Regions from separate parts of the Homo sapiens genome. Here regions 1 and 3 are each linked to region 2. The links come from fine-mapping of genetic effects on gene expression. A gene starts in region 2. Each other region holds a variant in brackets. All regions are shown on one strand. Distances are from middle to middle.

What was found. PIP is the estimated chance that this variant, and not a neighbour inherited with it, causes the effect.
Region 1: its variant is fine-mapped to the expression of GOLIM4 in ileum (CEDAR, PIP 0.95).
Region 3: its variant is fine-mapped to the expression of GOLIM4 in fibroblasts (GTEx, PIP above 0.99).

Annotation. Positions count from the first base shown.
Region 1 is chr3:167,917,250-167,925,440 of GRCh38, reverse strand. It overlaps the pseudogene LRRC77P. Among named protein-coding and RNA genes, the nearest start is that of GOLIM4, 170 kb to the left of the region's middle. The variant C/T (reference allele first, on the strand shown) is at 4,500.
Region 2 is chr3:168,092,152-168,100,342 of GRCh38, reverse strand. GOLIM4 (golgi integral membrane protein 4) reads left to right here and starts at 4,419. Exons shown (of 16, transcript NM_014498.5): 1 at 4,419-5,244. The coding sequence starts at 5,058. RefSeq lists enhancers at 3,644-3,693, 3,891-4,392 and silencers at 4,064-4,303, 4,594-4,643.
Region 3 is chr3:168,000,013-168,008,177 of GRCh38, reverse strand. No RefSeq gene overlaps it. Among named protein-coding and RNA genes, the nearest start is that of GOLIM4, 92 kb to the left of the region's middle. The variant G/A (reference allele first, on the strand shown) is at 3,269.

The DNA of each region.
Region 1 (8,191 bases), 170 kb after region 2:
TTCTTAAAATGTGTTATGGATGGATAATGATTTTAAAAGCAGAGAAAATATATGTAATCATTGAACGGGTGTCTGCTTGCAAAAAGAAGTAAATAAACATTTAAAAACAATTCATCAGAATGAGTTTTACTTCTAAAATATGGTGGACAATATACTCTGTGGATACTTAGTACAAATTCATTTGAAAGGCATCTTAGGTCTTTTACTCAGTGATCAACTGCTGTGTCTTTATTTTTATTTTAGAAAGCCAAAAAGAGAGAGACTATAATTACTCCGAATAATACAGACCAATATTCAGCTATTCATTGCATTTTATAGCTCTGTGTGACAATAAATATATGTTTATATTAGTTCCTTATTTTAATCCTTCATTTGGGCAACAAGGGATTGCTATATTATTAGCTTTTTGTGTAATGTGATCTGCATAGGGAACATCTTTTACCTATCTAAGACCATACTGGCAATAGATTGAGAATCCAGATGACTGGAATCTATGAGACTTATTCAAGATATTGCTTTGATGGTTTATAGTGGGTTTTGACTTAGGTCAAATAAGATACAATGTTCAATTTGAAACTATCAGCATATTTGTATTTCATATGTAACCACATACTCTAATATTGAGAGTAACTTGAGATTAGCATGATGTTTTAGCCACAGGACTCTGGAATACCAAAATCCTTCTCTAGAAAAATACCTCTCACAATTTTCTGGAAAGAGATAAGTGATGATGACAATGACCAGCTAAACAAAATAACACTTTATTAAAAATTGAGTCTTTGCTACTCCAAAAGCCACTGACAAAGTCTGGTAAATTGTGCTGGGATTCAACAGAACTCATGCCTAAGTGATATACAAGAGTGACCATCATCCTGTTGAGCTGACATTTAGAAAGAATCACTCCTATAGAACAAAAGCTGTATCTGCTAGCTCTGAAAGACATGGAGGCAAGGAAGCAGAAAAGAGTTTTTGCTCCATTTGCCCAGCACTGAGTTAGCCTAGACCACTTGCTGTAGACCTTCAAAGATCAAGGCAAGGTCTCCTGCTGTGCAGGAGGGTGGAAGAAAAAAAAAAGTGTGTGTGTGTGTGTGTGTGTGTGTGTGTGTGTGTGTGAAAGAGAGAGAGAGAGTCAGAGATAGACAGAAAGCTGGTACCCTTACCACTTTTCAAGTGTGGAAGAAGGAAAACTGGGGAAAGCAAAATCAAAGCCCTCTTGAAAACTCCAGCTGTAGAAAACTCAGCATGTCAGCAATCAGTGGCCAAGCAGTTCAGCTCTAGCTCCTTAGATGGAAGGAGAAGGAGAGGAAGGATAGAACTGCTGACTAGTGAACTGATTTGGTCATGGGAAGTGGGTAGAAAAGAAGCCCAGAACAACCTCAGGGCTAACATCTGTCCCATAGATAAGTTCATGATTCCATGAGATTTTTGGTTTTCACAAAGTATTTTTTCAGCCATATAATGTTTATTTCTTTAGACTCATGACATACATTTTTTTAAAGTTTTCCAGCTCCAGAAATATAATTTCAAGGAGTATACATCCAAAGTTCACTCACCTACTCAATACTTATTGAGAATAACCCTGAGGTTTTTGAGGGGTATAAAGAAGAACTAAGGTGAATCTGCCCTTGAAGAAACTTGCATTTTAGTAGTCATTGTCAAAAATAACTAGCATACAAACTATTAAGTAAAAATTGCCATAAAATATATATAGCTCAAGGACACTGAGAGCTTAGAGAAAAATGAAGATTTTTTAAGCAACAAATTTCAGTATGATTTGTATAAACTCGTATAATCAGTTTTGAAATGACCATTTAGAAATTATAAACAGAATGCATATAATACTTCTTTTGAAGAGACAAAAAAGCAGAAAGCAAATATACACCTGAATGATTCAAATATTGATGCATGTGGTCCAAAGCTCTAAAACTAATTAGATATTTGGTTTCATGATTGCAATTAGCCTTTAAAAAAATAGGCATCTATTAACATAGTTTGGCATTATAATGACAAACAATTAGTGATAATTGTTCTATTCTGGAAAGAAATAATAAATGGAAGTAGTTGGCTTCTAAATAAATTAAAAAGTAAGCTTGCTAACCTAATTTTTAAAATGTGGTATGGGGAATTTATTTTAGGAATCTTCCACTTTGGATGTACAAAGAACTTGAAGAAAATAAAATTCTTTTTCTTGCTTTGGTTATTTCTCATTAGCTTTCCCTTACCTTTCCTCCACCCTCCTAACCCCACAGACTCTTACGTTACCCATTTACATTTCCACTTGAATATTAGAGAAAATATCAGAGTATTTTCAAGAGGCTGGAAGCTGAGAAAAATTCCTTATAAGATGGAATTAATTATAATCACTTGAGAGATTTGAATAATTAGTTGAAAGTTACAGAGGGCAGATATCAGCTCAATATAAGGAAGAACTCCCTGAAGATTAGGAAGAATTAAAAACCATTTTCTTAGATGTTTCCAATACCTCAGTTTATTCAAAGGCGAATTGGAAAGTCCTTTACTGGATATTGTAGAGCTGATTGATGTAAGCATTCACTGGGACTAGTGAGGAGCTAGGCTTGTTGATATGTAAGTTTTCTTTATGAACTGAAAGGCTTTCTGTCACTGAAATTATTTTCTAACAAAGGAGTTATTCACATTATGTTTCTGTCTCAGAAAATTGAGTCCCCTACACAATTTATTCCCTGAAATTGTTTTGAACTGACCCATCCAGATAATCCTGCACCTGGTAGACATGGGACATTCAGGGGAAGAATGAACTTGGGACACAAAATTAGATATGAGATACTAAGTTGCACATGCTCATTCTTTTTATACCTATTACCTCCAGTGTATTGGAGAATAATTAAATATTTCAGAAGGGTGGATGTAACTATAAGTTTTAGGATGAGAGCTTGGTGTCATTCAGTTGAGTTAAATAGAATGTGGTCCGATGTCAGCCATCTTTGGCACTTATGCACAAAATTTCCACAAATATAGTTTGATTGTTGATAAAAATCCCTGAATTCTCCAACGCTGTACATCTTCTGGTATGCTAAAACCAAGGAGAGAGTGGCTCAGATCTCTGTGCATTATAGAAGATGCAAGAAAGTACTACAAAGGTCAAGTGAGCAGATATACTAGAAACTACAGCAATGCAATTATTGGATATGTCATTATGGGTCACCACTGATGACTGGTAGAACTACCGCCACTACAGTGAGTAGACAGATGCAACTTTGGGGTTTGATGTTATTTAGTTTATAGGTCTTCTAATCAGTCCCACTCTGGCATAGACAGATATTACCAACTTCGGCCAAACTGCTCATAGAACCTGTACAGGACATCAGATTGCAACATCAACACATATCTTCAGATTAGCATGATCTACATCTTGAGACACTTACCAGTGAGCCTAGCCTTCCTCATAGCTAAGCAACCCAGCACTTGTTATCCTTGTATAAAACCCATGATTTTCTTGTCAGTTAGCATGTTTTTGCCTGCAAGAAACAGATAACCCAACATAAAGTAGCTTAAACAATAAAATGATTTGTTGGCTGTCATAACTCTCCAATTTCCTATGCCCTTATAACGTCGATTTCCAACACTGTTGCCCTAAAGTTTTCAATATATTTCACCTAAGCTTTTTTTTTTCAACTTTTATTTTAGATTCAGGCAGTACATATACAGGTTTGTTACCTGGGTATATTAGATGATGCTGAAGTTTGAATTATTCCATCACCCAGGTGCTGAGTATAGTACCCAATAGTTAGTTTTTGAGTCCTTTTCCCCTTCTCTTCCTCCCACCTTTAGTAGTCCTCAGTGTCTCTTGTTGCCATCTTTATGTCCATGAGACCCAATGTTTAGCTCCCACTTATAACTAAGAACATGTGGTATCCATTTCACCTAAACTTTTGAAGTTGTATCCTACCCGATAATTCTGCCACTCATTAATAATTTCCTACAATAGCCATTTATTCATTCATTCAACATTTCAAGTGCCTGCTATCCTGTTCTGGGGGGAAAATACATCATTGAATGAGTTATGTTGCAGTCCCTAAATTTAAGGAGGTGTGTTAGTAGGGAGAGGGTAGGCTATGGTGCAACATCAAATGATAACAGAGGTTTACTCTCTGACTATCCATCTTTTATAGAATGACCGTGGCTCTGCTCCATGCCAGGTTTACCTCAGGACCTAGGCAGATAGGCCTTGATCGGGAAATTTGCCCACTGGTATGGCACAAGGAAAGAAAGTGTGACAAGGCACAAACTGTTTCTCAAATTTTCTGCCTGCAAGTGACCTATATCACATTCATTTACATTTCATTCCTCAAAGCAAGTTGCTTGACATAACTGACTTCAATAGTGAGGGAATCATACACCTCTTCCAAGGAAGGCACATGGATATTGGTGAAGAGTAGTGCAATCAACCATGTGACATTAAAATTTAGAGCAGAGATCAGTACTACAGCCTGCCACATCATTTTGTAAATAAAGTTTTA[C/T]TGAGACACAGACACACCCATACATTTACATATTATCAATGGCTGCTTTTGCACTACAATGGCAGGGTTGAGTAGTTGTGACAGAGACCATATAGCCCAGAAAGCCTGAAATGTTTACCATCTGGTCCTTTACAGAAAATATTTTCCTACCTTGATTTAGAAAAGCAAAAAGATATAAAATAAACTGCAATATTTAATCATGCATGTCCTGTGTTTATTAGCTTTTAGCAACAATGATGATTGCTTTCTTTCTATACAGACTGCATTAGGATACAAGGCATATTTTTGAAAAAATATTGGTTTCTGGTGATAAGCAATCTTCTGGTAGCTTCAAGATTCCATCCAGCATTTTTAAGTTTGGCAAACAGGAGAATACTCTAAAGCAAAAGTTAAAAAAAAAAAAACTATATTGAACAAAAGCATTTTATTTCACTTATTCTCTTTATAAGTGAATGGACTTTGCCTATTGTTATAAGGAAGATGAATGGCTATCACTTCATTCTGTGTTGCTTATCTTTGCAGTGGAGCTAAAATAAAATATTATTCATATTAATTGACCTGATGACCTTGCCATAGCTTGCCCTTTCAGGGATCTAATAGATCTTTCAGCAGGTGGTAAATATTGATCAGAGAAATGGGACTGTCTACAATCTGTTTTTATAAGAGAATTTCATTCCAGTTTTTACAGTCTTATAAGGGAAAAAAAATCAATGAGTGGATTTAGCCAACTAACCATGAGAGAAAGAATGAGATCATGATATATATGCTCATTACAAAGTTAAAAGTTTAGAAAGAGAGAGAAAGTAAAGCAAGCCCACAATATTCAGTGATAGTTAAAGAAGAATTCTGGCTGATAAATATAAAAGAGGGAGTGGGAAATAATATTATGCTGTTATTTTTTCCTGAAAGCGAGCACTTCTAAAGCTCCTATTTCAAATTCAGGGAGTCACTTCTATGTTCAGAAACAGATCCTTCAGTTCAATCCAGTTAACAGTGGTCATGTACATAGCGGCATTAAAAAGCAGCATTTTCTTTAGAATGACAGCTTTTCTAGATCTGGGAATTCTGAGGGCTCTGGCTGGGAGAAATCTATGGCATTTGAATTTGCCTGCATGAAAGATACTGAAACCTTTTAGCAGATATGCTAAGTCAGCTAATGATGGAACTGACCTCCTTGAAAGCCCCCATTGGCTGCATGATTTTCTTAACATGAATTGCTTCCTATGCATCTCTTTAAATCCTCACAACAACTCTGTCAGATTGGTTTTTATCCCTCATTTTAAGTAACTTATTCAAAATCATAAGGCCTGTAGGTGACAAAGCAAATATTAAAATCTATGTCTTCTGGCTTCAAAATTCATACTTAGCTGGCAAGAATTTCTAGCCACTGATTTTTTTTTTAAGTTAAGCAGTAATGAACTAATATCATGTTTGACTCCTAGAGAATGATAGAGAAGTTTGCCTGTAGGTGTCCCAGAAATGGGGCCACCTTCTAACCTACTGGGATTTACATTATTAGCTCTGTCATTAAGTCCTTTCTCTTTTGAATTGTGCTGTCTTCTTATTGGTGGATCTGAAACAAAGGAGGAAGGGAAAGCAGTCACAATTCTAGGTGATAATGGTCAAGAAAAGCTTGTACTTTAAATAATTCTGAGCATGGTGTGTAAAAAGAGTCATCTGAAGCTCTGGCCCAAATCCTCAACACAGATACCCAGTGACAAAATGAAAGCTGTTATAATCTTCAAGGTGTGGATTTTTGGCTGGGTAACTGAATCCATGTTTGAATGAACTTCTGATTCCAACTTAGTTCCTTAGCATGAGTGGATGCTTAAACCTTTTCTTCATACTCTAAAATGACCCCATCATTCTATTCAATGTAACCCTGCACTACCTAAGTTAATATAACCTGGCTTTTTCTAACTTGAAAGTCAGCGTATATACACCTTGGACTCAATCCAATAGAGTTAATACTGGAAAAACAGAAGAACCTCATTATATCCCTCATTCCTACATAACTCTATACCACATCATGAATTTTGTAGACGGAATTACAGTAAGACCTCAGGGCATATCCAATTTCAGACAATTCATCTTAATACTATTATTGTAAGGCATTCTTTGAAGAGAGGCAAGTGGCTGAGTTGGGACCAAAATGCTTTATAAAACCCCACATATGAATTAACAAAACTGAAATACAATACTATTAAATTATCCTTATGACTAGGACTGTGCTTTCTTATGAATGATGTTGAAATGTCCAGCTAAACCTCCTTTGATTATAGGAAATATAATTTTAAACCTCCAAAATATTATTATGGTTAAATATTAGCTCAATATTACAGCAACTGTGCTGCTAGTTTTCACTGTTATGTGAAAGCAATTTAAGAATTTATTATCATCACAGACATGAAATTTTGCTTCCAGACTCCAGTCATAGGGCAGACAACTGGAGTAATGAGATTTATGTAACAACAGAGATTATAATTTCTATTTTGACAAATTTTCATTGTACGTCAGGCGTTGAAGAGTCTAACATCATATAGGCTTCTGGAATACAGTTGCTGTTCATGGGAAAAGAGCAGTGTGAGAAAAGAAGATGGTGAAAACTACGTCTTTTACTGAAATTGAAGTAAACAAAAGATTGTAATCATAGGATATAAATGGACCCTGGAGATGATATAACTCTTTGTTTGACAGATTCGCCTGGGAGGGGAGATGACCTCAGTCATGGGTGGAAATACAGGTTGTAGAATTCAGTTGCTTGTTTTTATCCTTTTAATTCCCCTAAGTACACTAATTAGTGGTACTGGGAATTAGCTGGAGATAAATAAGTGGGCATATTACTGGGTGCACACTTCAAGGTTTAGGTTCCATTATTATCATTAGGAATGTTCCCAGTTGTGACAAAGTAATAAAAATGGTTTCTTCTTGGCAGGTTTTTGAGCTCTTTCAAGCACTGGAGTAAATTGAATTCTTCGTATTCACTTAATGTTGCCCTTGGGGCCCAAAGAGTGAAAGTAAAACCAGAGAATAAACAATTTATAAAATTGTCACATAGAACTTAATAAAATATATATGTATGTATAATTTTTTAAAAGACATAATATCTATTAAGCATGTGGGAGAAAATGTGGAATTTGAAAGTCTAAAATTAAACAACTTTGTATAGGTAAAGTCATTACAGAAGGAGCCTAAAAATCTGCACAGTAACTATAAATTAACCAAGAGAAAAGAGTATATTAAGAAAAAATTGTTAAAAGATGAAGAAAGATTAGTTCAAAAGTCTTTAGGTGAGATCAGAAGCATGAAGTGTTCAACATAGAGTAGATTCTATAAGTATTTGCTGGGTAAATTTGAGCAAGAGAGGGACAATATTTTAAAATATAGTTAAAAGTATAATATTCAATGAAGTGCAAAAGATGACTTAGTGTGTCTGCGGCCTTACTGCTTCCTGTAATTTTGGTGGAACTCACAAGGGTTCCTCTTGAGAATAAGGGATTCCAGTGGAGTGCACCGTAAACTGGAGAATCCAGTAAGAGTCTCAATGTGGTTTTCGGCCAAGGATAAATGCTGTATCTGAGGTATCCTTGGTAACTGTTTGAAAGATATGAGATGGTTTTTGCTCATATTTAAAATTCTGCAGCTGGATACAAAAGATAAACATCTTGTTACTTGTCTCCTAAAGAGAATGG
Region 2 (8,191 bases):
TTGGTGAGAAGCTGGATGAGCCATTGGAAGATTTAGGAAGTTCACTTCTGAGGCTCACATATGCTCCCTTTCCATTCTTTCTAACTTCCTATGAAATTAAACTGAAAAAAAAATGTGGTAGTTAGCTCATTATATGCTAGCTGTAACAAACATTAAGCAACATATTCATAATGATTTCGTATACTGCCTTAGAATTTGGAAAAGTTTAGGGTTGGCTAGATATCCTGCTTTAGAATGTTGTTAGAGGTTTGAAATGATAGTTCCTCTTCCTTTAGACTAGCTACACATCCTGTGGCAAATAGGGACTTCTAAATCACGTCCATTATTAGTAGTCTGTATTCAAAAGGTATTTATTTATTTTTATTTTATTTTATTTATTTTTTTTTTGAGATGGAGTCTCGCTCTGTTGCCAGGCTGGAGTGCAATGGCGCAATCTCAGCTCACTGCAACCTCCGCCTCCCAGGTTCAAGCGATTCTCCTGCCTCAGCCTCCCGAGCAGCTGGGACTACAGGCACACGCCACCATGCCCAGCTAATTTTTGTATTTTTAGTAGAGACAGGGTTTCACCATGTTGGCCAGGATGGTCTCGATCTCATGACCTCGTGATCCGCCTGCCTCAGCCTCCCAAAGTGCTGGGATTACAGGCGTGAGCCACCGCACCCGGCCTCAGAAGGTATTTCTTAGTGATATTGATGGTAAGGTTTCTCTCATTGAAAAGCATTTTTATAAATAAGAACAAATCATCTACTTTCTCCTCTGCCCTCCTCTTCAGATATAGTTGAAAATTACAAAGGTGGCAACGTAGTGACAGATGTAAACAAGGCATAAAGATACATTGAGTGGGGTTCAGTTACTCAGTTATGCATTCAACCACAGACCTACTTTTTAGTTTGTTAATCTTCTAACAATTACTACTAGGTCATTATCAAAATCCTATGAAAAAGGAGTCTCAAAACATCTTTCACAAAATGTTCAAAAAGACATAATACCTTGAATGCAGCTTTCTTTACCTCTCAAAACAGGTCAGGTAAAAGTGGCAATCAGCAAGGCAAGTGTATTCATTAGGGGACAGCAAACTGATGAAATGGCAAAAAGGTGAAGACATCATAGAGTGAAGATTGTTTTATAGGATAAATAACTTTTGTAATTGTCAGATGAAAAGATTAAAATTAGTTTATTAATACTGAAAAGCTATTTTAAATTTTATTTACTATTCATCACCTTTTCTTAGGTGATGATTTCTCCTACAAATTACAAAATATTGAGTTCCATTTGTAGTAAAGAAATTTAAATAAAAGATTTAGATAATAGAAATTATTTACTCTAGGATCCTAAATATTATTAATTTAAAATCTTACTTTTAGAAATTATACGTCAGCTGTCTCTCTCAACTTTTTATTTTTTCCTTCCCTTATTTTGAAAATGAACAAATTTGATTAAAATGACAAATTCACTTAAGTTAGAGAGAATTAATATTCCCAAATGTTATATTTGCCCTTCTCAAATGTAAGACCTTGAGTATCTTTAAGTTAATTTCTTCCTGCCTCAGAAATAAAATACTAAATCAGTAAAATTCTTCAGGGTTTATAATTTAAAGTTAAATATATTGTTAAATATATGGAATATAGAAATATAATTATATATACTATTTTTAAAATAACAAAGAAGCAAAAATAAAATAGAATGAACAACACACCTTCCAAGACCAGTATAAACAGCTGTTATGTTATAATTGCTACCCAAAGGCAATGTTATGTAAATTCATTTTATAGGCCTTGGATAGCTTCCTCATGTTGGCCGCTCAAAAGCTCTATACTGACATTTTCAGGAAACTAGCAGCATACTTTACCTTGGAAATGTAATATTATAAAAATACCACCATTAGTAATTTTATGTACTTCTACATACCCTTCTTGAATTTGAAATAATGGATAAGTTCAGGTAATAATTTTTGCTGTCTTTCAAATTTTATGACTAAAATATTGAGTTGTGTTTTATGGCCTGCATTTATTATGTTCTGTAGAGTCAGCCAGCAGCTTTAGGCAAAGAATATCTTTGGAGTCTGGAATCAGATGCAAAGGAATCAGAGGTTTAAGATGAATCATACATTCAGGAAACATAAGAATTTTCCAAAGATTCTAAAATACATATTGTACAATATATGAGCAATAATTTTCCAACCCTCTATACAACTTCTTTTTCTTTTGTGGCTAGGATAATTTTCTCTTCAAATATGGGGCAAGATTATTGCCATAAACTTTATTTATTTATATATTTATTTATTTTGAGACAGAGTCTCACCTCTGTCGCCCAGGCTGGAGTGCAGTGGTGTGATCTTGGCTCACTGCAACCTCTACCTACCAGGCTCAAGGGATCCTCCCAACTCAGTTTCCCGAGTAGCTGGGACTATAGGTGCACGCCACCATGCCCAGCTAAATTTTTATATATTTTTTTTTTTGTAGAGGAGGGGTTTTGCTATGTTGCCCAGGCTGGTCTCATACTCCCAAACTTAAGCGATCTGTTCGCATTAACCTCCCAGAAGTGCTGGGATTACAGGAGTGAGCCACCATGCCCAGCCTAAATTTGGATAGTGTTTTTGGAGGAAGAGTTTGTTTAACAAAGTACTCTGACAACAGTAAGGAATGTTTAGTTATGAGGAATTTTAAAGAGATTCCAGTAATTATCCAATGTTAATTTCTGAGAGTCAAACTAAAAAAGAGGAATTTAAAGTGGTAGATTTAATAATAAGGAAGATTATGTAGTATTTACACAACAAAACTCCCAAACTCCTTTAGACTGTTTTCTTTTACAATCAGATTCTCATGTTAATGGAGATATAATTTCTTACTGTAACTTGTTTAATAGAATGAGAACATTGTTTCTATTGAAGAAAAAGACATAGAGCAGGGTTTGGATCTGGATTCTAATCTTGCTGAGTAACTAACTTTATGCAAGACCTAAAAGGTCCTAGAGCTGTCATAGTCACTTTGATAAACTTTGGCTTCTTTACCAACATGAAAGTCTAACACCCTGGCTGTGATCAGTGAGACAGTGTATCTGCACACGAAAGCATTTTGAATAATTTAACGCAAGTTATTATTTATTAAGGAAAAGCACATGCAAGACACACTTTATTTTTACAGTGGTATAAATGCCACAGGGTAGCATCGTTATAAATTCAGTTTATTTTAGGGCTTTAGCAACCTATAATTTCAGAGTCCACCTAAAAAAACTTTTGCACCAGGAACTGTCTTTCTGTTGCATTTAGCTAAAGAGATTTACCCCCATTTTGAGCACTCAGGCCCATTAGCAATGGTAACGACTAAAGTCCAGTTAGAATATAAAAATTATGCAGTGTATCATAAATTACACCACACTATACAGACAGATAAAATTTACTTTTCTTAGAATTCAGGTCAACAGCAGAAACAAAAATTATCATTTGTGCATAACCTTAATTATTCCCCTCAAGTACACAGAAAAAATAAATGCAGTATACATTTCTTCGAAGAGGTTTGTGGTTACTACCTTTCCTGTGCTGTACTAGTTTTTACATAGGGAACCTTTGTTGCCCTTTAAAATGTAATTTAGAAATGTAACTGATGTGTTTTGCCACCAATAAAACAAATACATATGACAAAATGAATGGATACTCATTTCAGTCTGTACGATTTGTTTTTAAATTATTCTATTTGCAGCTAGAGGAGAAATGTGAGACCATTTCTTTCCTCTCTGCCAATGGCAAGCCGATTTCCCCAGCCCACGTGGACAATTGAACATTAAGTCTAGCGTGCTTCCAGTCTCCCGACTCCTGCCGGGCCATCTGTGGGCACACACACATCTAGGCTAGTACACTGGATGGGGTAAGGCAGTCGACATGGCATCTCTGGTTTGACTACCGGGATTGTGCTATGTAGCTATCCCATGTGTCTGCCGCATCAGTTTATTGGACAGGGAAAGAAAGTGTACTCAGCAGAGTGCACACAGTTACTGCCATCCATTCTTTCGTTCATACACACATTTTACTCCGCTCTCCACGTGCGTTCCGAACGAGAACTGGAACACACACACACACACACACACACACACACACGTGTTCACCGAACCTCACCCAGACTCAGGCCCGGACAAGTCCCCCGCCCACCCAAAGCTCCCCGCCCTTCGCCCTTCCGCCTGCCTCTTCCCACCCTCTCCGACTCCACGTGGGCGCACCCCGGCGCCAGGCGGCCGCGCTGCCCACAGAGCCCCTAGCCGGCCCCGGCACTGGGAGGGAAGGTGCGGCCCTGGGGTCGGACGGACAAAGCCGGCATCCAATCGAGCCCGGCACTGCCTCCCCGAAGGGAGGGAGCGTCTGCTCGGACGGGCCCAATGAGCAAGGAGGCCGAGTGGGACTTCCTCCCGGAATCCCGTTGGCCAGAATAGCCGGGCCGTGGGTGACACGTAAGTTGGGCAGGAGGTGGCGGGGCGGCAGAGGCACCAGCCGACCCGTCAGTGACACCGCTGTGCCGTCCCCAAAACCAGCCGAGACAGCTGGCCCCCACCCTTCCACCCATTGGGCAGGCCGCACGGGGGCGCGGCCCGGAGTCCTGGTCCCTTTGTTGGGCGCGCACCCCCTCCCTTAGGTGGCAACAAAGTCGTGCAGTGGGAGCCGCCGCGATAGGGCGGGGAGTGGCCAGGGCGGGACTCCAAGAACTGCCCGGGGGCAGCGGGGCCAAAAAGTGGGAAGAAGGAAAAAAGGCAGGAGGCATCTGGGGACAGGCGCGAGGGCAGCCGGCTCTGAAGTATGCGGAGGGCCTCCTCCCGGCCCCGGGCATTCGCGGAGAACGAGCCTCGCAGAAGTTTGGCTGCAGCTGCCCGGGCGGCGTCGATGGCTGCGCGCCCCGCGCCGCGCGGGGGCTGAGCGGGCGCCACTTCCCCTCCGGGCCGGCTTTTGTGTCTGGCATCTCCTCCTCATGCTGCGTCTGGCCACCTACTGCGGCGGCCGCTGCTGAGACGCTCGCTCGGACCAAGGGGAGGAGACGGCGGGGGCGGCCGCGGCTTTGGGTCCAGGCGGGACTATGGGAAACGGGATGTGCTCCCGAAAGCAGAAGCGGATTTTCCAGACGCTGCTGCTGCTGACCGTCGTGTTCGGCTTTCTCTACGGCGCGATGCTCTACTACGAGCTGCAGACGCAGCTGCGGAAAGCCGAGGCGGTGGCGCTCAAGTACCAGCAGCACCAGGAGTCCCTCTCCGCCCAGTTACAAGGTACGGCTAACGGGACGCGCGCAGCCGGTGGCCAACTTTGCCCCGCGCCTCCACCCGGGCAGGAAAAGTGGCTTTGGTGAGCTATTGGCACTGTGGTTGCCACCTCTGACCTTCAGGGACGTCAGAGGTGAGCGTTTCAGGACTGCCGGCACCAGAGTGTCAGGGGAGATGACATTCTCATCCTCCCGCTTCTTCCTCCCAGCGGTTAGGTTTAGAACTTCGTAGCACCAGCCCATCGTCCCGCTGGGCGTTTGGTGGGCGGGTGCACAGATAGTCCTTTACCCGAGCTCTTGTCAAAGGCCCAGCTGCAATCGGGGCAGGGAAACTGGTAGCCCTCCGCCGCTTCTGCCAGCCCTGCTCTGAGGAGCATTGTTCCGTGGATTCTAGGTATTTGCTTTCTTGTTGACTTTGTCAGTTGCTTAAAAAATGAAGAGTTTGGCAGAGATTTCTCAAACTGTGCTGTTTTTCAAGGGAAAATTAAGCCATGACCCAGCAGCTTAATTAAAGTCATGGCCCAGTCGAATGGAAGGAACCTAGATCTGGACCTGCTAGTTTCTTATTTCTTATTCTTTTAATTTAATAGGATGTCTTTAGAGATGCTGGATGTGTGGGAAAAGTCCACACTACATACCATTCACCATCCTGCAGTAGTTTATTTCTTTAAAAACAGGTTTACTTGTCTTCCTAAGTAGCTTTTACTTCATCACAGAGATGCATGTATGTTACAGTTAGCTTCGGGAAGCCAAAGAGGAGAAACACAGGTTTTCACTTTGCCATGCACAGCAAACCCAACTTGAGCAAGACCTGTAGAAGAACTTAAAGTTTCTATCCTATTTTAGAATCTAATTTAATGTAATTTTCACAAACATAATTTACTTTAAATGTAAATTCAGAATTTGAATTTGAATTTACTTTTAACGTAAATTCAAAGTCAGCACCATGTCCTCTTGTTAAGGACGTATCCTATACATATTTTTTTTGCAAGCTTTTACTTGTGGTTAGTTTTCAATACTTATGCAGCTTTCTCCCCAACCAAAAAATAATAATAAATAGCTGTAAGTGGTGAAATGTTGGCAGACTTTGCTGATGATGCAAATATAGCTTGTTTAATATTGCTAGGTAGATAGATGCAAGCTAGAGGGATGTTTCTGTGTATGTGTGTGCAGATATGAAACAGATGCCTCTTCTTTGCTTCAGTTATTTTGAGTGTTTTCTAGTAAAAAATTTAAGATGAGAGAAAATGATACACATCCGATTGTTTGGACTTAACTTGCTCTTCCCAACTTAGAAGAAAGAAAAGTATTTTTAGCTTACTGACGCTGCATAGCCACAGGCAATGAAAATATATGGCTCGGCTTGGTTCAAAAGTAAAACCCGTTTTGATACGCTCTTAGGTTCACAAAATTTTCTTTAAACTCATTGAAATTTACCCATGAGTTATTGTTGGTATGAGAATATGGATATTTGTTTACTTATTTATTTACAAGGTATCAGTTGCTTCCCTGTGAAGTTCCATGGAGTCAGACCAAGGGAAAAATTTACCGTCTAATAGTATAACAGGACTAGATTTTCATAAACATGGCTGGAAGGGGCATGTATGGTGGATTATATGAGGTTGTGTGTGCCTTGGTCTCTTAGGAGTCCCATGAGGGCAAAGGCTGTCATTTTCACCATTACCTCCTCAGCACCACACTGTGCCTGACACTCATTAGGGGAATCAATGCATGTTTATTCAAACAACAAACAAAAATTATTCTGAACTGTGGCGAGTAAGTTCATCCCAGGCACTTTTGTCTTTCTGAGACTTTGCTTCTGTGTCTTTGCTTTTTGAAAGCCAAATAAAACAAGAAAATATTTTGTTCAAGTAGCTCCTTTGCCTCAACGGCCTATGATGGACGATGGATATTGTTGACTGAGGCCCTAATTTCTGAATAATGGCCTTTATTTGCAGTATTTCATTTTGAAATTTTAGAAATTTCTTTTCTAATTTGCCTTTTCTTTTTTTAGTGGTGGTGGTGGTAGTGGGGAAGAGAGGTGGTAAATGGTAATACAGGATCATTAAAATATACAACTTTTGTTTTGCAGCAGATGGAAATGTTCTACCTAATTTGAATAAGTGGCTTCAAAGTCCCTTTCTTAATTTATTCTTTTGTCATTTCCTCTCTAATTATGGTGCTACAAAACTTGCAGTATAATTGTGCATGAATAATTATTTCACAAGCAGGCTAAAGTATTTTTTTGTTTGTTTTTGTTTTTTGTGGATTCACTTTTGACTTCAGTAGCATTTATTTTGGATTTCCCATGTGTAAGCCATTTAATGTACATTTTCTGGTGGTATGCAACTTTTGCTTCCCTTTTCCAAGACAAATGACATTTTACTCAACAGCACTGTGTACCACCTGCATAGATGGGCTTTTAGGACATCAGGCTCTCCAGTCTTAATACTTGTTTAGTTAGGTGGGATTGCTTGACCTGGCTTGGATTAAGATCAGAATTAATGACTTTAAAAAGAGTGGTCTTTTTAAAAATGACTCTTGAAAAAATTTCAGTAGTTTAGACCTATAATCTGATGATGTGCGTTCGTTAAGTGAGCGTATTTAGGTCACCTTCAGTTTAAGAATAGATTATACTCCATAGATTCCTTTGAAAGTGGGTTACTTGTAACCCCAAGTTAACAAGTTTTATTGTAGAAGAGCCCCATAACTAGAAGATGGTGGGGATGGCATGCAGAAAGGTCAGAGACTAGGCAAACCCCTTCCACTATAAAAATATCTATGTCTGCCTGTTTATCTATCCCTCTTAGCAATCAGTCATCTATTTATCTCCCATACTGGCACCTTAATTATACTGAGGAGTGGGACAGAGGTCACATACTGGTGGCAAAGGTAATAACAATCTTTGGCCAGCACAGTGTTTATATAACCTTTAAAGTTTTTAAACTGCTTTC
Region 3 (8,165 bases), 92 kb after region 2:
AGGATTTGGTACCAAGAGTATAGTCGGGGTGGGGGGTGGGGGTTGTGGGAGGAAGGCACGTTTATTGGCAATGAGTATAACGGGGCACAACAAAACTAGTACACATGCAATGACTGGTTATTTGCAAGAGTGATTGGGAAGAGTTCTAGGAGTAAAAGCATAATCTTAGCCACATGTGCCAGTGACTTAATTTTACAAAGGAAAACTTGACGTGTATTGAATGCCCTCATAGTGTAAGAAGTATGTGAATAGGATCCACTTCAATCCCCACAGTATTCCTGTAAGGTTGATGGAATCCGCTTCTCACAACTGAAGAACCTTGTCTTCCAAAGCACTTAACATTTAACTTCTTTTAATGCTTAGTTTTGTTTTTAGTTCTATTACATTGTAGTACATCTATACTATGTCATCTTACACAGCCATTAAAAAGAGTGAGTTAATTCTATTTCTCAATCACCTTCTGTGGTTTCTGTTTTACTGTTTTCTCCTAGTTTTTTCCTAGCATACTGACTACATTATCTTTTTTTACAGGTTCTTCTTATGCCTGCTCTTTCAATATTAGTGTTCCTCAGGTTTTGTACTAGAGGTATTTTTTCTGTTCAATCCTCTTCCCATCTATGTGTTATACAAATGTCTTGAATCCATTTCCTTAGCCTAGCTTTCTGTGTCCCATCCTATGTAAAATATGTAAGTTTCAAAACTGAATTTACCTTGTTAAAACCTGCTTCTCTTTCTAGGCTTTCTGTCTCAACTCATGACGTTTCCCAAAACAAAAACATGTTGTTTGTCCTTGATTCTGTCTTCTCTCCTTTTGACTGCTACCAAAAATATCCTCAGATTTGCCCACTTCTCTCCATACTCACTATTCTGGTTCAGACCCCTGTTACCTTTCACATGGACTAATATAACTGTTCTCTAACTCATTTCTTCATTTACTCTCTACTGCCAATCCCTAAAATCTGTACCAGTGTGATTTTTCTAAGGATACCACACCTACCCCATTATAAAATTTAACAAATTGCTATTGCTCATAGGAAAAAATCCAAACTAATTAACATAACCTACATAATTCTTTATGATCTGGCCCCATCTTATCCCTTCTAATACTGAATCATAATAAATGTGATTAATCTTTGTCAAGCACATTCCTCTCCTAATGTCTTGGTGTCTGACCTTAACCCATGTGTGGATGGGAAATTGACTTTTGCAGTGTTCGTAATACTATCCCATCTCCTTGGACAAAGTGCTTGATAGAGGACAGGCACTTGACCTCAAATACATCAATTTTGATTCCTTCCCTGGAATTTTTTGTTGGAAGCCAATCCCTCCATGGAGTTTCTACGCAGCTTGTGACAGTTTTTATCCTAGACTGTGTTTTCAATGATACCTGCACAGCAAAAAGCCTTGGAAGCTAGAGATAGTATCTCCTTCTGGGTTGGAGGGCAGATTTGTTTCTTGACTTGAATAATAAAGATGATGTCTTCCTTTGAGAAAAAGTTTAGACAGGTTTGACAGCAGCTTCTTTGTAAGATGAGGGTTTCCTAAGATCAGAGATCCTCAGCTATGACAGATGCCCACTGTGTGTGCAACATCCACTTGGGCTGCTCTGCATGGACCTCATGGCACCTGGAGACTAAGGGGAACTGATGTGAACATGAAGCTCACGACTGCTGCTGGATCATTAGAAATGGAGTCCTTTGTCTCTGACCCAGCAGTGTAGTTCCTTCTGCCAACATCCATGAAACTGCAGCAGGCAAACTTGTTAGTTGTAAGGTGGATAAAATCTCATACGCTGCACAATCATTGGCATTTTTGCAGGCTGTGGCAAATAGAAGAGAGCAGCTCTGTTTTCTCTCCCAATGGTAAAACTACTATGTCATGAATTCAGTGCTTCTGGTGTTCATTTACTTCGTTGTGTGGAAAAAAAATAGTCTATAAAAGTAGACAACAAATTTTACCTATAAAGATATGCAAAAGTTAGAGGCAGAGATGACGAGAGAGTTGTGGCATTTTTTCCAGTCCCTATATCTTGCCATCCCTGATGCCAGCCAAGTCTCTCTATAGGTTAGTTAATGATCTGATAAAATCTACTGTTTCATTTGACCTAGTTGCATTTCTGTCACTTGCCACCTGAAGATTTTGGACTCATAGCTGAATTACATTCAGTTCCTTTAAATCATCATGTTCTCTTATATCATGGTATATTTGCCACCTACCCTCCCCGGAAACACTGTTCAACCCTTATTTGCTCTTCTCTCTTTTGCCTGGCTGGTTGCTTTGGGTCTCATCTTAGATACCAATTCCTCTGGGAAGAGTCTACCTCCCACTCTTCTGACTCCTGAGTCTGGGATGCATACCCTTCTGTTCTATAGCACCCATGTTATCCATATCATATCACAGTGCATGGAAGCAGTCTATACATTTGTCTATACTCTCCTTGACATGTATATTCTGGAAGTAGAGACCATATTTCTCTTGTCATTATTGTATCCCAAGCACTGGCATATAGTAAATTTTCAATAAATATTTTTTAAATTGATAGCTTAGAGTCCTCATCTGTAAAAAGGAAATATTGATTATTTCAAGACCATATGACACATATTAATAAATGGCAGAGCTAGGAATTCTTCCCAGCTCAGTCTGATTCCACTGTTAATTTCAAATATATCAAGGATTGTTTGGATCATTGTCCATTGTCACATTCTGAGTTTCATATATTAAGAAGGTATATATTAAATTCTGCAATAACAAGTACTAAGAGGGTCGAAAAATGAATGAAGTCTCAGCCACAGGCTCTGGAGGAGGAACCAAGATATTGGAATTACTTGATCTAAGAAAGAGATAGTCAAAGAAAGAAATAACATTGTATGTCTCTTCTTTGAAGCATCAATTGTAGCATAAAGAATAAAGAATTTCTTGAGAAACCAGTGAATGAATCTGTGAAATCTAGAGAGGTTTTCAGATTAGAATATATTTAATAATTAATTGTGATTGCTAAGAGGCCTGCCTAAGCTGAGGAATAGATGCTATATCTGTAACACGTTCCTTGGGTCTTGTGACTGTGATAGGAGGGCCAGTTGTTATTGGAATAGGATATGTGCTCATCCACTGGTTGGCCTTTTGTCTCCACACTATCACTTCTGCCCCTCGTTTGTAGCAGGTCCTGTAACCACAGGAGTAGGCCAAAACCTGATCTTCTAGACCCCATCTTCTAGACCCCATCTTCTAGACCATAGTGATTGATGGAGGAAAGCAAGCATGTCCCAAA[G/A]TAGCCCTTCAATTTCTCAGTCTGAGATTTCTGCACTGAGGCTGAATAAGAGAAATGCTGTCTAGATGCTTTGGAGATGGCGTGAAACACATACACCAGGAGATTGCAGGAGTCATAGTCCTCATCATGTGGAGAAAACCAAGTTGCAGCAGACAAGAATGATGCCAATACATAAAAAGGAGTAGGAATGGAGGGAAGGAGGAGACAGGAGAAGGCAGGAAAAGGAGAGAGTCAGAGAAAGGCACAAAGAAAGTAAATGGTGTTCAAATTCCCATGTTCTGCCTTCCTATGATTTTATTTGCCAGAAAATCTCCCTCCCCTTTATATCTTAACTAGTTTGAGGATCTTAAACTGACCAAACTAAAGAAAACTGGCTTACTTCAGCATTATACATTTTATGAAGCAGAACAATATTAGCGTGACAAAGGAAATATTTTGATTAACTTTTAGTCCTTTGGCCTCAAATGTAGTAAGTTTTAATAAATAATGACATGGTTTTTAAAAAAAAAATCTTTTTTCTTCTTGGATCTGTCTTTGAGGCCCAGAGGATCTGTGATAAAAGCTTAAGGATTATCGTTAATGAAGTTATGAGTACTCTTGTATCCCCATTGTTTCGTCTACATCAAAAATTGGCAAACAACTTCTGTAAAAGGCAGACAGTGAATCTCTTAGTCTTTTCAGGCCGTGGAGCCTTTTTTGAAATTACTCGGTTCTGCCTTTGTACTGTGAAAGCAGTCAGAAACAATAGGTAAAGGAATGAGCATGGCTGTGTGCCAATAAAACTTTATTTACATAAACAGAAAGCAGGTCAGGTTTGGTCCTCAGACTGTAAACACCTGGTCTACATGGTCCAAATATTTGTCGTAAAAACAGTTATTTCTACACACAATAGAAGATTTTGAGATCATCAGCTATTAAGGCTTTCTGGTTCTTTGTTATAATCCCTTCTATTTTAAATTGGCAAGCACTCAACATTATCTTTGTTGCTACATTTGTACACTATTTTAAATAATTGGAAATGAAATCCTTTTGTCCTTTACCATCTTGGCTGACCTTGTTCTCCCCATTCCCTGTATGTTACTAATGGAGCTTGAAATTCAGTGTCATTTCTGTTTATCTGTTATTAACGCATACATAGCATGTCTCATAAAGTACATATCTTTTAAAGAACTAGTTCATTGGAACATGGGCTTGTACGAGATGAGATGATATCTTTTGATCTGGTGTGTCCTTTCTTCTTTCAAAATTTAAAGTATGGATACCAATTACAATAGCTGTGTATTAATACATTAAATTCAAATTTGTGGTCTTAGCTCTGAGTGTTTTGGGTTCTGTGGGTATCTAATTCCTGTTAAGTTTATATACCCTAGTATAATTAGACTCTATTTCATAAAGAGAGTCAAAATACATTTTATATTCTGTAAAACCTGGTCAATTATCTTCTGTAATGGTTTTAAAATTGGTTCACAAAATCTTTGATAGTCTTCCCTTCAAGAGATAGAGCCTAGTTCCCTTTCCCTTGAGCATAGGCTAGACTTAGTTTCTGGCTTCAAACAAATAAAACTGAAGGAAAGTGACCATGTATGACTCAGAGATTCAGTCATAAAAGCCAGTTTAGTTTCCTCCATGTTATCTCTCTTGGATCACTGACTCTGAAGGAAGCCAGCTACCATGTTATAAGGCTATTCAAACAGCCTTGTAATGTGACCTTCATTCATGTGGCAAGGAATTGAGGCCTTTGGCCAACAGCCTGTGAGGAGCTGAGGCTTCCTGCCAACAGCCACGAGTGAGCATGGAGCAGATCCTCCAGCCCCAGTCAAGCCTTCAGATGACTGCAACATGACTGCAACCCTTTTAGAAACCCTGAGCCAGAACCACCTAGATGAGTTATCCTAGACTTCTGGCCCACACAAACTATGTGAAAATAAATGTTTATTCTTTTAGGTTTGGGAGTAATTGGTTACACAACAATAGATAACTGATATATCTTCTAGGCAGAGTTTATGACTCAAAAGGGAGAGGTCAGGGGTAAAGATGATCTGCAGCTGCATGGTGTTACTGGGCAGCCAGCCAGCTGCTCTGCTGGAAGACAGGTTTAGATGTGTTGGTGAAGGAAGATGGAATTCAGCTTAATGAGCTGAATAAATTTAAGCCAATTTATATGTTCAAAATTATTAGATAATATTTTGGCAGATATTAGTAACCTTTCAACCTTGGCTACAAACCTGGAGAGTTTTAAAATAATGATGCCTGGATCCCATTCCCAGAGACTCTGAATTAATTGCTCTGCGTTGCAGTCTGAGCATCAGGATTTTTAAATTTCCCTAGGTGATTTTAACGTGCAGCCAAGATTGAGAACTACTGCTTTGTAAGTTAGGAGTTGGAAAGAGTAAGCTTCCCACCTCAACATTTCTCTACCAGATGGCAAATTACAATGAAAGCAAGTCTCAGACCAAATCTGCAAAGCAAATATTTACAGGCAAGTCGAAACAGACATCTAAACTTTTCTTAAGGCCCAATGAAATTATAGTTCCCAATCTTTTCAGGCTTTCTAGACAGGCATGAGGCATGAAGGATTTGCTCAGGACAAATCCTATAATATTTTAGGAGCAGAATTCTGTTAAACCTGTAGTTACATCCTGTGCCCAAGCCTTCCCTTAAGAGGCATATGTTCTTCTGCAATGGGTGTTGGAGTTATCAGATCCTCATACCTCTTTGTGAGAGGGTAGAGGTGCCTGTACCATAATTCCTACAACTCATTCACATATTTTGAACACTATTTCCCCAATGAAAAGAAGTCTTTAATATCCATAATGCTGGCCAACGAAACACTTAATGCTGAATTGAGATAAAGATAGTGGAAGCATTTATGGTAGCAGCCTTCAGAATGTGGACTTCGATGAGAGCACCAGTTTCTCAACCCTGGCTGTGTATTACATTTTTAAAAAAGACCTCCAGACCTCACCCCAGTCTAATTAAATCAGAAGCTCTGAGAGCAGAGCTTGACATTAATATTTTTTAAAAGCTTCTCAACAAATTATGATTGATAGGGGTAATAGTTATGAGAAGATTGGGACTCTGAAGGGATAGAACACACAGGAGAATTTTTTGGGGTAGTAAAATGGTGTTTGGGTTGTGGGGGTAGTTATACAAATCTATACATGTATTGAAATTCATTGAACTGTACAACAAAAGAAATAAAATATACTATACAACAAAAGAATACTGTACAACAAAATAAAATATTAAACTGTACAACAAATAAAATATTGATTTTATTGTATGATAATTTAAAAATAAAATAGTATAACTGCTAAAATATTTTTGAAAGCCCTCTGATGATCTTAATGTAGAGCCAGGATTGAGTCACTGTACTAGATTAAGAGCTGGTCAACCATTGCTGGGATGTGTATTCATAATTAGGCACCACCAATATTAACCTCCTAAGTTGACTATCCTCTAACCACTAACCACACACATGCCCATACCCTTGTTTGTAGACACGCCACATTGTCTATGGTGAAGTAGTTTTTTAATAATTACAAATATATAAAAGTGAGATACAGCTGTCTTTCACAGATTAGATTCACACTGAGGAATTTTAGAGTATGGCAATGGGAAATTGCATGAGTCAGTAGTTTTATTCATCTCTGCTCTTAGAGAAAAAACTACTAGTGTAGTTGCTCTCCCTCAAAACAATGTTTCTCAAACCTATTAACTCTGGCTTTTATAGAATAATGCAGAATCCCAATAGGAGAGCTGTTTGGCAGTTTAATTAGTTTTATTTCTAAGTGAGACCACAGGAAGAAATAAATGTATCATGAAACAGTGTGTATGAATATATGTGTATATATTGTATAAATAAAATAAAAGTTTCAAGAAACATAGGCAGGCCTTTCCTATTTTATTGTGCTTCAGTGGAGTGCTGATCATGATATCATGATGAATATATATCATCAGGGGATGGTGAGCCAATTACAGTTGACTGGACAATAGAACCAGGTTCTACTCTGGAATAATAGACCCAGGCATTTATGCTTCTCCCTGCTGTGACATAAGGAGACAGATAGGAATTTGACCCATGGCTATACCATTCAAATGCTTTCGAAGCTTTATTCTGCATCCCTACTTTGGAGTGGGTGTTAACAGCACCTGGGAGTTTCTGCTATCCTCCCTTTTTATAGCATCTTGGCTTCCATTTCCTCAGAGCTGTAAGAAGGCATATGGGCACAGTCAAGGTTAATAGAATGGAGACTCTGATTCCCATCCTTCTCCTCTGCTTTTTCCTTTTTTAGCCCCACACCTGGAAATATTCCTGGTTTTTGAGGACAGAACAGCTGAATTAATAAATGCCTGTTTGTATGCACATAGAACAGAGGAATATATGCACTTTAATCCTTTTGGTATTTCCCTGTGGCCTGTGCTCAGCTCTTGAATTGATGTGTGCTACCTATGGATAGATAAGCTTGGCTTTGCTTCCTTCCTCCTCACTCTACCATTCATTCTCCTTGCACTATCAGGCTGGTGACATCAAGATGCTGTGAGCCACAGTTCAGTGTGGAGGATCAACTAGCCACCAGCAAACATCGCATAGTTTCATGACATTATGTATTTTTAAAATATTTGATGTCATAAGGATAATAAGACAAAGTCTACATTATGCCAGGGATTGACTTCTGGGAGGAATCTTAATGCTAATTCAGGTTTCTTGATATCTTAGAAAAGCAGACATTCTATGGCTTGATAGTACTACTGATTTTATATGATATCTACGATAGAGAGAATTTTCTCATTTAGCATAGACTGTTCAATAGCCATTAAAGAATGTCATAGGCATTACTAATGGAAACTGAATAGTATAGTATGAATTTGATGTGTAGCTGAGACTCTGATATGA